Homo sapiens: one gene and its partner. The protein of the gene in region 2 interacts with the protein of the main gene of each other region in a pairwise test. Each region holds a gene or a part of one and is shown on either strand. Other genes may lie near its edges.

Evidence for each region.
Region 1: the proteins of UQCRB (region 2) and ACCS interact in binary tests that used the Homo sapiens proteins (3 or more experiments, as listed by UniProt).

What each region holds. Positions count from the first base shown.
Region 1 is NC_000011.10:44,076,258-44,080,010, forward strand, and holds part of ACCS (1-aminocyclopropane-1-carboxylate synthase-like protein 1), read left to right. Parts: intron 1-1,021; coding exon 1,022-1,119; intron 1,120-1,280; coding exon of another isoform or gene 1,281-1,304; exon of another isoform or gene 1,305-1,587; coding exon 1,588-1,665; exon of another isoform or gene 1,666-2,426; coding exon 2,427-2,527; exon of another isoform or gene 2,528-3,273; coding exon 3,274-3,363; exon of another isoform or gene 3,364-3,753. UniProt on the Homo sapiens protein: Does not catalyze the synthesis of 1-aminocyclopropane-1-carboxylate but is capable of catalyzing the deamination of L-vinylglycine.
Region 2 is NC_000008.11:96,222,400-96,225,651, forward strand, and holds the end of UQCRB (cytochrome b-c1 complex subunit 7), read right to left. Parts: 3' UTR 548-3,252; downstream 1-547. UniProt on the Homo sapiens protein: Component of the ubiquinol-cytochrome c oxidoreductase, a multisubunit transmembrane complex that is part of the mitochondrial electron transport chain which drives oxidative phosphorylation.

The DNA.
Region 1 (3,753 bases), on a different chromosome or scaffold from region 2:
GAGACCCATTCATGGTAACTTAATTAATAATGAGAATATTAGTAACATTTATTGACCACGTACTGTGTTCCAGGGATTAGCCTAAGGCTTTATGCAGAGTATTTCATTTAATCCTCACAATACTTCAATAAGGTCGGTTCTATGGTTATCTCTATTTTACATATGAGGAGACTAAGACACAGGAGGTTAACTTGTCAAAGTCACACAAAGAGAGGTAGTAACCAGTATTTGAACCATGAAAGAGAGATTCATTGTAAGGATATAATAGGGAATTTCCTGCCGGTTCCAGAACAATCAATAACAGGAACCCTCTAAGCTTCAGTTTCCCTGTCTATAAAGTTAGGATATAATAAATAGTACCTCCTTCGGAGACTAATTGTCAGGAGCAAATGAGATAAAATAGAAACAAATGTTCAGTGCATTTCCCATCACGTCGTAAATGCTTAGCAAATGTTAGCTGTTAATAATTAGAAAGGGGGCTGTATTAGTCTGTTCTCATGTGCTAATAAAGACATACCTGAGACTGGGTAATTTATAAAGGAAAGAGGTTTAATGGATTCACAGTTCCACATGGCTGGGGAGGCCTCACAGTCATGGTGGAAGGTGAATGAGGAGCAAAGTCACATCTTATATGGCAGCAGGCCAGAGAGGTTGTGTAGGGGAACTCCCCTCTGTAAAACCATCAGATCTCGTGAGACTTAATTCCCTATCACCAGAACAGCACAGGAAAGACCTGCCCCCGTTACTCAATTACTTCCCTCCAGATCCCTCCTATGACGCAGGGGAATTATGGGAGCTATAATTCAAGATGAGATTTGGGTGGGGACACAGCCAAACCATATCAGGGGCTGATCTCAGTGGATCCAAGCTTTCCAAAGTGTTTTGGGAGTTAAGAGTGCAAGTATGCCCCAAACGGTCCCCAAAGAAGTTAAAGGCTTGGAGAGGGACTGGGGACAGTGGACAGAGGGTCTGGGGTGTTCTGGCCAGAAAGTGACAGGCCCTCGCCCACTCCTGCCCCCAGAGGCTTTCCTGATCCCCACCCCTTACTATGGCGCTATCACACAGCACGTGTGTCTCTATGGCAACATCCGGCTGGCCTATGTCTACCTGGACAGTGAGGTAAGAGTCTTGACTTCCTAGGTGGAACCTGGGCCTGCCTGTGGTCAAGAGTTTCCTGGGTCTGAATTTGAGGGTGGTCCATGCTGAGGGCTCTGGGGTTGTGATGAGTAGGGAATGGAGCCTTCTGTTGCTGCATGGCTGCCTGTGCCTGGGTTCCCCAGTGGCTCCAAAGTTCCAGTCTCTGAGATCCCTGGGGTTGATGTAGAAGCCAAGAGCCAGACCCAGAAACAGCAAGGTAGGAACAGAGCAGGGTAGACCTAAGCATGACACCCAAGAGTGATGAGGGGGTCTCTGAAGTGATGGGTTGGGGGTGGATGGCAGTAAGAGGGAGGGACCCCACCTGCTTTTCCAGAGACTCTTCTGAGGAGGCTGGGGATTACAGGGGAGGAGAGGCCTGAGAGTTCATATGTATTTTGGGGGGCAATGGTCACTGAATGTGGCTGGTGGCTCTGATGGGTCTTTTTCCAGGTCACTGGGCTAGACACACGCCCCTTCCAGCTCACAGTGGAGAAGCTGGAGATGGCCCTGAGAGAAGCTCACTCTGAGGTCTGGGGATCAAATCAAACCTGAGGCTGGGTGTGGGTGGGTCTGAGCAGGGTCTGGACCCCTCTTCTTGTGACTGATCTCCTCCCGGGAGTAGGGTTGATACCCGGTGATTGGGACAGACAGGTAGGGTGGTAGCACAGAATTATTCTGGGAGTCAGGCAGAACCCTGCCCAGGGAGGGTCTTCCCTTTCAAAACAGACTCTCAGACCTCAGTTCACAGAGAATCAACCAGGGAGCATCACTAAAGATACCCCCATCCCTGATCCATCTGATTATGATTCAGTGGGTCAAGTATGGAGTACAGGAGTCTGTGGTTTTACAAGTCTCCCTGGTAGTTTGAGGGGGCAACCTTGCTCACTGTGGGGGGAGCTGAGGACTCCCAAAGGAGAGCAGAGACCAGTATTCCAGTGGTTCCTTTCCAGCCTACTTTTCAAAAATCTACTTAATTTTTTTTTACTTCTGTCATGAAAGCTATACATACTCACTGTAGGAATTTTGAAAGTGCAAAAGGCCAACCCAAAATTCTACCAACAAAGGTAACCTACTGGTATTTGGGTATATTTTTTCTCTGGGCCTTGTCCTCCGCCTTTATCTGATGCTGCAGATGTAATTCTGTGTTCCGCTTGTTTGCTTCATGTTGTGTTATGAACATGTCCCCCTCAAATCTCCCTGGGAGCCTTCCAGCGATCAGCCCCCTTTGACTGTGTGGCTCTGGCCTTGGGGAAGAGCTGAGGGTCTCCTGCCCTAACGGATGGTTTCAGGGTGTGAAGGTCAAAGGCCTCATCCTCATCAGCCCCCAGAACCCTCTGGGTGATGTATACTCCCCTGAAGAGCTACAGGAGTACCTGGTATTTGCCAAGAGGTGAGGCACCCCACACTGGCCCCGACAGAGCGTCTGGGCAGCCTGGGGTTCCAATGCGGGTTTGGTGCAGGTTTTTCTACTCTCTTGACCCCACTGTGGGCTGCTACTTGCTTGGGCCCTTCCTTGGCAGTGGAGCGGGGAAGCAGGGATTTGTGGGATGCCCATTCCTCTTTATCTTTCACTCTTTATAACAATAGCTATCAATTAGCGCACACTCTAGGGGCCAGGCACCATGCTAAGCACTTTATGTGCCTCATACAATCCTCACAACAATGCTATCATACAATCCTCACAACAACCCTTTATGTGCCTCATACAATCCTCACAACAACCCTCATACAATCCTTACAACAATCCTTACAACAATCCTCACAACAACCCTACTGATGCTGTTATCACATCCAGCTCACTGAGCCTTAGAGTGGTCAAGTGAGGGGTGGATCCAGACTTGAACCTGGGTCTCTCCGACTCGAGCCCTTGTGCATGACCTTGCCCCTCCATGGAGGTGCCCGGGAGATCCTTTTCTCCCCTGCAGTGCTTCAAAAGCTCCTCTGTCACCTGCTCTGTATGTGTGGCTTTCTGTTTGAAAAAAACAGAAGAAAGAATGGTGTTCTTGGAAAAACAAGTTTGGTAACCCCGGGCTAGACCCCGGCCCCTCTGGATTTCTGATGTATTACCTCCCCACCCTGTGGGACGCATCTGCCCTACACACTAAGTCTCTCCTCCCCACCCCTGCCTCACTCCAGGCACAGGCTGCATGTGATTGTGGATGAGGTCTACATGCTGTCCGTGTTTGAGAAGTCTGTTGGGTACCGCAGTGTCCTAAGCCTGGAAAGGTGAGGCTCCCTGACACAGCTAACTCCCCCAGTCCCTATTATCCCACGGAGCCCTGGCCACTTTCTGGCTCAGCCCACAGGGCATGGCCTGCCCAGAGCAATTCCATTTCCACCCAGCTGGTCCCACTGGTCCTCAGATCTAATGAGAAGCAGGGACGGTTGGGCTAGATTAGTGATTTTCAAGTTGTTCTGTGGAATTTCTGAGAACTCCAAGAAGAGGCCTCAGGATCCCTTAAGTTAGGGCTGAGTGGATGGCAAATTGGCCTCTTTGCTGTTTCCTTTACCTCCAGAGTCGCTCCAGTTTTATTCATTCATTCATTTACTCATTCATGCTCTCATTCACTCAGCACCTCTGGAGCCCCTTACACACAGAGTGTGCCAAACACCTCT
Region 2 (3,252 bases):
GGTACGTGAAAAGGTGCTCATTATCACTAATCATCAGGGAAATGCAAATTAAAACCACAAAGAAATATCCTTTTACACCTATGAGGGTAACTACTATGAAAATGACAGGAGATAACAAGTGTTGGTGAGGGTGTAGAGAAAAGACAGTGCTTGTGCACTGTTGGTGGGAATGTAGATTCATGCAGCCATTATGGAAAACAGTATGGACATTCTTCAAAAAATTAAAAGTAGAACTACCATGCAATCCAGCAATCCCAGTTCTGGATATATACCTCCAAAAAATGAAACCACCATCTCAGAAGGCATCTGTGCCCACATGTTCGATGCAGCATTATTCACAATAGTAAAGACATGGAAACAACCAGTGTCTGCCAACAGATGAATGAAAAAATTGTCACACACACACACACACACACACACACACACACACACACACAATGGTATGTTATTAAGCCTTAAAAAATAATAAGATACTGCCATTTGTGACAACATGGATGACCTGGAAGACATTATGCTAACTGAAATAAGCCAGACACAGAAAGAGAAATACTGCATGATCTTATTTATTTGTGCAATCTAAAACATGTCAAATACATAGAAACAGAGAAGAATGGTGGTTTCCAGAGTGGGAAGGATCAGGAAATGGGGAGAGGTAGGTCAAAGGATACACAAACTTGCAATTATACAAGATGAACAGGTCTAGAGATTTCATGTACAGCATGGTGACTATAATTATATTGTACACTAAAAATTTGCTGAAAGTGTAGATTTTAGGTGCTCACCAGACACACATACACAAAGTACTATCGTGGTAATGGATATTTTAATTTGCTTGCCTGTAGTAATCATTTCACTATGTATATTTGTATCAAAACATCATGCTGTACACCTTAAATAAAAAAGAAAAGACAACATAGCAATTTCAAGGAAGACAGAATTTAACTTTCCATTTGCTCACTTGCAAAGTGTGATCTTGTACCCGTTACCTAACATGTCTGAGCCTCTATGAAAAGAGGATAATTGTGCTCACCTTGGAAAAATTTTCAAGGAATAAATGAAACCTGAAATGGCCCACAGTGAACACTAGGTAAATAGTATTTATTATTGTTAAATAGTAAATGATTGGTTGAAGTAGTAAGTGCTTTACAAAGTCAAAGAAAATAGAAATGTCAAGTGCCTGGGGTTGACAAAGAGCTTCTCTCAGTAGGCAGAATTTAATTTTTGTCTTAAAGTAAAGCTAGAATTTAGACAGAGTATGGTGAGGATTGCAAGTGCCATTGCAGGGGACTGAGAATAGAAGGAAAAAAGGTTAGAGGTAGAATTTTGCAGAATGTGTTTGGGGAAGAGGGAGTTAAAACAGGAGGAAAGAGAACACAATGTTTTCAGAATGGACAAACCTTCTGTTTTCTATCATATGGCATCTTTTTAGCACTGGCATTTACCTGCATTAAATTGTGTAGAAGAGTAAGTCTCTGATTGGAAGCAGATCTATCATGGGTAGAGGCAGACAGGTGGGGGTGGTAGAAGCCAGGCTTTGGAAGGCCACTCCCTTCAACTGGAACTAGTGTGGTCTCCTGGAGTCTGACTCTGGGGCATGAGTTAGCTTACCTCAAAGAAGCAAGCTTTGGTTTTCCAGGAACTGACCACAAACCAGTTCCAAGTAGCAGCACTTGGTGCTCTCATGGGGCAACCTAGCCATTCTCAAGGGCAGCCCAGTTCTGTGTGAGTCAGAGTCCTGGCAGGAAAGTGTGGCACACCCAATCAGGCAAACCAAAGAATGTCCAATGAAGGGACAATTAACAAACGGCAGGCAAGGTCAAGGAGAACCAACTTTGATAGAGATAGCAGAGTGGGGAGGGATGGAAGGGAGAGCTGTAGGAATCTTGAGAGGGGCTGCCTGACAGGAGCTGTAGCTTTCTTCAGAGGAACGTGGGCTGGGGAATAAATATCTCTGTCTCTCTCATCTGCCCTCTCTTGCAGGTGGCCACCCTCCCCACACTGGCTGGCCAAGCCCAAGCCAGAAGCCAGAAGGCAAAAGTGTCTATTTGTGCAGTCTTTACATCAATTTATCTCTCCTGGGGTACAGAGCTGAATCCAGAAGGGACAAGAGTAGATTTAGAATATGCAGCACAGCCAACGTCTCACAGAATGAGAAGCCACAGAAGGGGCTGATTACCAGGCTGCATCACCCTCAACAGACCCGTGTTTGTGGAGCCCCTCCGGACCTCTCTCTTTTACCCTTCCTCACATCCACCTCTTACACATCTAACTGATATCCAGTCAGGCCAACTGGACTTCTTAGTATCTCTCAAAAATATACTCTGCTCACACCATATCCCTAAACTCCAGAGGGATTGAAGATTTATGGTTTTGTTTCTTATACCTAAAAGTACTGGATGAAACCTTGCTGGATATTTATGAAAACTTGGAGTAAAGAGAGGACTTCTCAAAGCATGACCTCAGAGGCAAAACCACAGAGGAGAGGACTGAGAGTTTGTACTACATAAAAATCAGAAACTTCCATTTGACAAAACCCACCATGAACAAAGTTGAAAAGGCATCCAAAAAACCTCAAATAAAATTCAAACGATGAAATAAAAATATCATTTCAGCAAATGTAAGTAAAAGGGGTACTATCTAAACATATAAAGGTCTCATACAAATAGATAAGAACTGACCCAGGTTTGGGAAGGGGGAAGAGGGAGCTAAGAGGAAAACTAAACAAATAAGGAAAAGGCTGTGAAAATTAAAAATAGGCCCATAGGTGAAGGACATGAACAAGATTGATGAAAGAGAAATAACAACTTGATAATAGCATATGGAAAAACGTCTAGCTACTCAATCCAAGAAATGCAAGTTTAAACAAGAAACTCTCCAACCAAATTCACAAAGATTGCTTTTAATGAGAGCACTCAGTGCAGGCAGGAATGCAATAAAGGGACCCTCGTGATTGCTTAGATGAATATAAATTATTATAAACTTTTGAAAAGCAAATTGGAAGTCCAGTATTGAAAAACTTCAAATATTCATCCCCTTTGCCCCAACATTTTCACTTCCCAGAATCTATCCAAACACTCTGCTGCTCACAGGATGAAGTCCAGGCATCTCAATATGGCGTACACCTTTCAGGTTGCATCTCCCATGTCTCTCCAGCTGATATTTGCCACTCCATCAGTGCAAAACTGCCTGTCCTTCCCTAGACATACATCCTGCACTTCCATGCCTTTGAGCATTTCCTGCTCATTTTCTTCT